3 separate regions of the Homo sapiens genome follow, and all the other regions are linked to region 3. The links come from fine-mapping of genetic effects on gene expression. A gene starts in region 3. Each other region holds a variant in brackets. All regions are shown on one strand. Distances are from middle to middle.

Evidence for each region. PIP is the estimated chance that this variant, and not a neighbour inherited with it, causes the effect.
Region 1: its variant is the best candidate, but not a certain one, in a credible set for the expression of MYO10 in monocytes after LPS (Kim-Hellmuth 2017, PIP 0.80).
Region 2: its variant is the best candidate, but not a certain one, in a credible set for the expression of MYO10 in monocytes (TOPMed, PIP 0.85).

The regions. Positions count from the first base shown.
Region 1 is chr5:17,103,950-17,106,709 of GRCh38, forward strand. It overlaps LOC124900947 (a long non-coding RNA gene), which reads right to left. Exons shown (of 2, transcript XR_007058707.1): 2 at 2,079-2,760. Among named protein-coding and RNA genes, the nearest start is that of MIR10522, 51 kb to the right of the region's middle. The variant A/AT (reference allele first, on the strand shown) is at 1,289.
Region 2 is chr5:16,963,411-16,966,170 of GRCh38, forward strand. No RefSeq gene overlaps it. Among named protein-coding and RNA genes, the nearest start is that of MYO10, 29 kb to the left of the region's middle. The variant C/T (reference allele first, on the strand shown) is at 1,579.
Region 3 is chr5:16,934,918-16,937,677 of GRCh38, forward strand. It overlaps MYO10 (myosin X), which reads right to left and starts at 1,371. Exons shown (of 41, transcript NM_012334.3): 1 at 871-1,371. The coding sequence starts at 891.

The sequences.
Region 1 (2,760 bases), 170 kb after region 3:
GTTACAGTGGGGGCACTTTGCGGGGGGCGGTGGGGGTGTGGGTGGGAGAAGTGATCTGAAACCTTATGAGGTGAGGTTGTGTGCTGCTAAGGAGCATTTTTTTTTCTTTTTCTTTTCTTCTTCTTCTTCTTTTTTTTTTTTTTTTTTAGGGTCTTGCTCTGTCACCCAGGCTGGAATGCAATGGCTGATCTTGGCTCACTGCCACCTTGACCTCTCTGGCTCAAGTGATTCTCCCACCTCAGCCTCTCGAGTAGCTAAGACCACAGGTGCGTGTCACCATGCCCAGCTAATTTTGTTAATTTTTTGTAGAGACAGGAGCTCTCTGTTTCCCAGGCTGGTCTTGAACTGCTGACTTCAAGTGATCCTCCCACCCCTCCCTCCCAAAGTGTTGGAATTACAGGTGCAAGTCACTGCATGCCCAACCAAAAGCATTTTCTTTCTCTCTTTCTTTCTCCTTCCTTCCTTCCTTCTTTCCCCCTCGCCTCTTTTTTTTTTTTCCTAAGTTTTGCTCTGTTTCCCAGGCTGGAGTGCAGTGGCGTGATCTCAGCTTGCTGAAACCTCCACCTCCCAGGTTCAAGCGTTTCTCTTGCCTCAGCCTCCTGAGTAGCTGGGACTACAGGCGCGTGCCACCACGCCCAGGTAATTTTTTGTATTTTTAGTAGAACGGGGTTTCACCGTGTTAGCCAGGATGGTCTCGATCTCCTGGCCTCAGGTGATCCACCTGCCTCGGCCTCCCAAAATGTTGGGATTACAGGCGTGAGCCATTGCGTCCAGCCCACATTTTTTTTCTTAATCCCGGCCCTGGAAAACATTTTGATCTATAGAGGCATTTGTAAGGCTAGATGTCTTTGTACAATTTGTTAAGTAGTGTTCTGCAGACGATTGTAAAAATGGGTCAGGGAGTAGAAGGTGATATAAAGTATCCCAGAATATTGGTGAGGAAAGAAATCTGGAGTCATGTGTGGGAAGCACAGAAGGAAATTTTTAAGTATACAAGAAAGTTAAGAATGATAACTAGACTGCCTGTTCTGCCTGTGGAGTAGCCATTCTTTTATTCCTTCATTTTCTTAATAAACTTGCTTTCGCTTAAAAAAAATGATAACTAGACTGATAAAGAAGACATTAGCAATGAATGAATTGGATGAGTAAATCTTCAGTCAGAATGAGAGACCTGCTTGCTGTTGAATCTCTTGGAGGTCAGTCCTTTCACATTCAATAAATATGTATTGAGACCCGTGTCTTCAGGGCTCTAGGTGCTGGTGATTCAGTGGTGAATAAAGCCAAGGAC[A/AT]TTTTTTTTTTTTTTTTTTGAGACAGAGTCTTGCTCTGTCGCCCAGGCTAGAGTGCAGTGGTGCGATTTCATCTCACTGCAACCTCTGCTTCCCGGGTTCAAGCAATTCTCGTGCCTCAGCCTCCCGAGTAGTTGGGATTACAGGTGCCCCCTCAGAACCCCTGGCTAATTTTTGTATCTTTAGTAGAGACGGGATTTCACCATGTTAGCCAGGCTGGTATTGAACTCCTGACCTCAGGTGATCTGCCCACCTCTTCTTCCTAAAGTGCTGGGATTACAGGCGTGAGCCCTGCCAGCCAAGGCCATCGTGTTACCTACTTTACATTGTAATGCAGGAGCCATCTAATAAATCAATAAACAAAAATATAATGTAAGGTGGTAGGATGACAGGAGAAGCTTGCCTGAGAAGGTGACATTTGAAATGACAACAGAAGGAAGTGAGCTGTGCAGATATGTAGGGCAAAGAGCATTCCAGGCAGAGGGAACAGCAAGTGCAAAGGCCTCAAGGCAGGAACATATTTGGGGCTATTCAAGGGCTAGCAAGAAAGGCAGGGGGAGAGTGGAGGAAGATGACATGGGAGCAAGGGGACATTGCAGAGTCCTTGTAAACCATCTGAGGATGTTATTTTCCATCCTAAGATGAAGGCAGTGAGTGGTTTGGAGTACAGTGGGGGCGTGATCTGGGTTAGAAGGATCACTTTGCTGTATGTGGAGCCAGGCCATGGTGAGAGAACGGCTGTATAGCTATAAAAACTCTCTTCCAGATTTGCAAAATGTCGATGAGAATAACTGCTTTAAAATATCTTTATAGAATACTCTATCCAGTTAAAAGAAACAAAAGTTTGGCATGATCTTCAAATAACCCAAGGGGGAGAAAAATATTAGGCAAATATAAACAGCATTGCATTCAAGAGGTGAAGTTGAGACATGCTTTCAATCTAGCCTCTGCAACAGCCAAGTCATCACAGCGCAATCAAATCCAGCTGGGACCACGGAAGATGACTCCATATCCTGTGGATACTCTGCTTGGCACAATGTGGGTGGGAGCCAATGAGGGCTGGATGGATGGAGGCCCTGAGACTGCTGCCAACCCTTGTTCAGAGCTAGTGGAAACTTCTGACTCTGAAGTCTTCTTTGCAGCTGGAAATGGGGAAAGGACTTAGGGAAGGTGCTGAAGCTGGCTTGGATAAGGCAATGTCCCACTGGAGCTATTTCTGAGCATTTTATTATTACTCAAATCCGTCTTCCCTCCCCCTTTTTTTTAATTGGTAAGTTTTTATGCTGGTAATAATAGGTGATGCTTATTCATTAATTTACAATGTGCCAGGTACTATGTTAAACTTATCATATTCATTATCTTACTAATTTAAGCCTTCACAACAGCCCAATGTGGGAGGTGATATTATTATTGCCCACAATGTTTAGAAGTGGGAACACAAGTTTAGAGACTTGCATAATTCCAGTTAGTTAGT
Region 2 (2,760 bases), 28 kb after region 3:
CAAATCTCATATTGAATTGTAGCTCCCATAATTCCCATGTGTTGTGGGAGGGACCTGGTGGGAGATAATTGAATCATGGGGGCTGTTTCCCCCATACTGTTCTTGTGGTAGTGAATAAGTCTCAAGAGATTTAATTTTATAACAGGGGAAACCCGTTTGCTTGGCTCTCATTCTCTCTTGTCTGCTGCCACGTAAGACGTCCTTTTCACCTTCTGCCATGATTTCGAGGCCTCCCCAGCCACGTGGAACTATGAGTCCATTAAACCTCTTTTTCCTTATAAATTACCCAGTCTCAGGGATGTCTTTATCAGTAGCATGGAAACAAACTAATATGCTTTTCATTAAAAAAAATTTTTAATTACTTTTTAGAAATAGCATCTCACTGTCACCCAGGCTGGAGTGCAGTGGTATGCTCATAGCTCACTGCAGCCTTGAATTCCTGGACATAAATGATCTTCCTGCCTCAGCCTCCCTGGTAGCTGGGACTACAGGCAGACACCACTATGCCTGGTTAATTTTTAAATTTTTTGTAGAGATAAAATTTCCCTGTGTTCTTGCTCAGGCAAGTTTTAAACTCCTGGCCTCAAGCAATCTTTCCACCTCAGCCTCCCAAAGCCGTGAGATTACAAGGGTGAGCCACCGCCCCGAGCCCTTCATAGTTCTTGTAAGGACAGAACAAAATACACATGATCCGTGCACAATGAAGTGTGTAATTTGGTGATTCTGCGTGAGTTAAATGCTCTAACATTTCCCTTCCCGTGTAATTTGGTGATTCTGCGTGAGTTAAATGCTCTAACATTTCCCTTCCCCTCCCTTCCCTTCCCTTCCCTCCCCTCCCCTCCCCTCCCCTCCCCTCCCCTCCCCTCCCCTTCACTTTCTCCACCTTCCAGGTTCAAGCGATTCTCCTGCCTCTGCCTCCCGAGTAGCTAGGATTATAGGGGCCCACCACCACGCCCAGCTAATTTTTGTATTTTTACTAGAGACAGGCTTTCACCACGTTGGCCAGGCTGGTCTCGAACTCCTGACCTCAGGTGATCTGGCCACCTTGGCCTCCCGAAGTGTTGGGATTACAGGCGTGAGCCACGACATTTTCATTTAAAATGGGCATTGTGCGATATAATATGAATGTTGAGGCCGAGCGTGGTGGAGGTTGCAGTGAGCCAAGATCGCGCCATTGCACTCCAGCCTGGTGACAGAGCAAGACTCACACTGTCTCTAAATAAATAAATAAAATGGTGAAATTAATTTTTTTTTTTAATGAGATGGAGTCTCGCTCTGTCGCACAGGCTGGAGTGCAGTGGCATGATCTCGGCTCACTGCAAGCTCCGCCTCCTGGGTTCATGCCATTCTCCTGCCTCAGCCTCCCTAATTTAAAATTTTAATTTTTTGTTTAGCTTGGAATGACATTAAAGAGCAAATAAAAAACATTATGACAAGTGAAGGGACAGAGTACAGAAGAAAGGAAAAAGCTTTTTCTTGAGTTCTTTTAATGGTACTTCCCCCACTGCATATGGAACAAGAGGTCAGGCATCTTCATTTTGCACCAGGTCCCATAAATTATGTAGCCAGCCCTGACAG[C/T]GCCCTTAGTGGTTTTATGTGCAATTAGGGTAGTGGGGGAGGGCTGAGGTAGATTTTGAAGTGTCACAGTGTTATTTTAGGAAGGGAGGAGCCGACTGAGATTTCGTGAAGGAATGCACTTCAGAAAATGAGTGCAAAGATGAAAGTGCCGGGGCACTCAGCCTTTCATTATGCCCTGACTCCTCATTCTGCCACCCAAATGAATGACAGATATCCTCTACCAAAAAACTCTAAAAGATAGATGTGTAGGCCATGTTGGATGACTTCTTCAGTAAATATAATATGTCACATAAGTACAATTAAAGAATTAGAGATGAAAACAATAATGATTTTATATCATTGATATTGTTAGATAGGAAAGATTATATATATTTTTTTCATCCAAAAAGTCAGCATAAACTTTAGTCTGAAGGATATTGAAGAGGACTTTATTTTGATTAACTGATCAATAAAATAAAAATAAACTCGATTATCATACCCCATCCTTTTAGATTTTTTAACGTAAATATTTTATGAAAGTTTAAGTAAGTCTACAACTATCAGAAATAATAGTCTTGCTGTCCTTTGGGGAATTTTAAAAGTTTGTTTTCTTTAAAGGTACTCTAAAGTACTCTAAAAGTAATATCAGAAGATCTTGGATTAGTGACTTTGAAGGGTTTTTTTCTTTTCCCCTCTTCCTTTTGGAATTCTAAATATGTCCTTACACAGAAGACTTGGAATCCCTAGACAGAGAAAACAAAAAGAAATGGTGAGATTTCCTGGGCTTCTCTGATGATCTGCTGCTCCTAATCTATCAATTAAGATAGCCAGGTGACACTAAAGAAAGTAATCAAAAAGTGTCTGGTATTTGCAACCTAAGTCATGTTGAATCAATGCCATTTGTTAGGGAGAAAATTGCAAAGGCATGCAAACTCACATTTTAAAGGAATTTGTAGCCAAAGTCTCCAAGCACTAAGCAACATCTGGAGTATACTGAGCTCTTCATCATTTCGTTTATCTCATGTAAAAGTTTGACAAGAGATAGATGATCCTTTTTAATGTACTCTTGACCACCAAAATAATTTATTGATTATCTAGCTCCATACTCTACAATACAAGGGAAAATCGAAAATCTTACATAACATTAAAGACGTTTGCTGAACACTTACTTCATTTTGTGCAATTTACCTGGATTATCTTTTT
Region 3 (2,760 bases):
TCACATCAGACTCTCTCAAGTCAACTAAGTTTACTTTGAGCCACTTCAAACCTCAAACTTAAACAGAATTTATTAAATAAACACAACCAAGAAAGGAAAGGGAGCCAAGAAACCACAGTAAGTCTCGATCCCAAAGGGGGAAAAAGGGTTCTCAAGTTAAGTTTCAGTGTCCCACCCTCAACGACCCTAAAGAGGGCATCCGTTTCATCTATTAAAATAGCCACTGTTTGCCCTAAACGAATTTTCTTTACATTCGAATTCAAAATCTGCATGGACACTCTACACAAATACATGATCATTTGATCCCAGGGTCTGGAGTTATCCCAAGCCTTAAAAGAGCACTTCTCGGCGAGCAAAGTAACCGATTAAACCCTTGCCTCTCCTTCTCACACTTCATTAAGCCGTCTCCTCTGGAAGTGTTTGAACCCCTGCACAGGAAGCCCGCACGTTTTGCAAAGGAAATACCAGACAAGACCTTTCTTGGAGAAAGGCAGGTCCCCGCTGAACATTTTATTGGGCTTCCTGCACCCGGGCAGTCGAGCGGGCGGATCGCCCCGCCCGCGCCCCGGCGCGCGCCGCCTCACCTGGCGCGGGTGTCCCAGGGCGCCCCGAGAGCCAGCCACCCACGCAAACGGAAACGCACCTTCGCTACCTCCCGGAGCAAAATGCGAGCGCGGGACAGGACGAAACAAAACCTGCCCGGGCTTACTCATCAGAGACTCCGCGGGGGGATGGGGGGTGATTTCAGGAGACTCCCAGAAAGTTGCGCCTTCCAGGGCTTAGGAAAAAGTACCCAGGGCGCGCGGCGTGGTGGGCAGACGCCTCTCTCCCTGGGCTCCGGAGGCCAGGTCGGACTGGGAGCGCACTTACCTCGGTGAAGAAGTTATCCATTGTTCCAGCGCAGTCCCGGACTCGCCGAGTGCCGCTCCGACTCGCGGAAGTCAGCGCCGCCGCGGGTCCGGGGAAACCATGCGTGTCACGGCGCCACTCCCGAGGACGCGCGCCCGCGGGGCTCCCCTGCTGCCATCGCCCGGTCCCTTCTTGTCCTTCTCACCTTTTGTTCGCCCAAACCCAAGTCCCTAACTCGCCCGTCCCGACGGCAGCCTTTGTCTCTTCTTCCTCCAAGTTCCTCACTACTGGGCGCAGCGCTCGCAAGCGGAGAACAGCTGGTGGCACATTCTTCCCCCAGGCGGGGGAAGGCGGCGGGGTGCTGGCGAGCGCGGCCCCCTCCCTCTGCGCTCCGGCCGGGGGCCCTCGGGGCGGGCAGGAGGACAGCGGGCCGCAAAGTGAGCAGGAGCCGCGATCCCCGCGCGAGCGCTTGGAGGTGAGCAGTCCCGCGCCGCGGCTCAGCCAGCTCTCGCCCGCGGGACTACAGCCCAGCGACCTCGCCCCGCCCTCCCGCAGCCGGCCCCGCCCTCCCGCAGCCGGCCCCGCCCTCCCGCTCGCGGCCCCGCCCCCAGGAGCTTGGCCCTCCGCCAACCACACCGTCTGGCCCCGCCCGGGCGGAGCGCCCCGCCCCCTTCCCGACCAGGCCCCGCCCACTCTAAGCCCGAAGCAGCCGCAGGCTCGTTAGCGGACCCGGGAGGGGGCCGCGTGTTTCCCCAGGTCTTCCCACGTAGGCGTGGGGAGGGGATTTAACTCTTCCCTCTGCAGAGAGAGACTAAACAATCACTTAGAGGGGAGGAGAAGGGACTGGGGGCTTCTGTGCCTTTCATGTTTAGCAGACCCGGGAACCGGCTCAACACGGATCTCATTAATGCAGCCCGGTAGACTAGCAATCTCGGGAAGGAAGCGCGGTCAGCGGAGCTGCCGGGGCTGCGGGGCCAGATCAAAGCGGAAGACGGAGGCTAATCAGAATTTCTGGAAGCTGCATTCCCGTGTTGACTTTCTGTCCTGCAGTCGGGTTTGCTTAAGACGTTTGCGTAACAGCGGGGAAATGTAGTTTTGAAACTGGAAGGGGACGTGGCCAATATCACCTTTAAAAATGTAACCCTTTTCTAGACCTCAAGGAAGCAGAGATGGCAGATGGCACTGAGATGGACGAATGATCAAACCCACCTGGCACTGAGTCCCGTTTCCCCTAGGGCAGTTCTTTTAACTTTATGCTGTGCGAGGGTCACCTGGGAACCTTGTTAGAACGCAGGCTGGAACAATCTGCTTTCCAGGTGCCCCTCAGGTGCTACCTGGTCCTGTGCTGAACGAAAGCTTGTAACAAGTAGAGAAATTAAGAGTAAACGTTTGTAGCAATTTAATAATGCCACGACATCCAAGCACATGATCAGTGGACTCTTTGAACCGAGTATAAACCAGTTTGGGTGTTGTCAGACTCACGTGGTGAGTCACACCTGGCGCCGCAGTGTATTGGTACCTGGCCGACTGGGAACAAAAATGGCTGGTTCTTCAGCACAAAAGATTTGAGATGCTCTCTCCAGGGAATTTGCCAACTGCTACTCAACCTTTAAAACTCAGCTCACAAAGTCACACCTTCCAGGGGAAGGAACCCTTCCCAAAGATGCTACTCCACTCACCCCACCCAAGCTCCCCGTAACCACTGGGCTAGATGCCCACTCTAGGATTTATTCCTAAGACTGTTGGGGAAGGACTGTGCTTTAAGATGAGTATCCCCAGGCTGTCTCACAGCATGAATGAATGAATGAAACATCCTTCTGTAATCCTTATGGGGAAAGTCAAGCATGTTTGTAACTTATCCCAGTCCAGTTCTTCACCATTAATATCATTGCTCCCACCTCACTTCCCTTT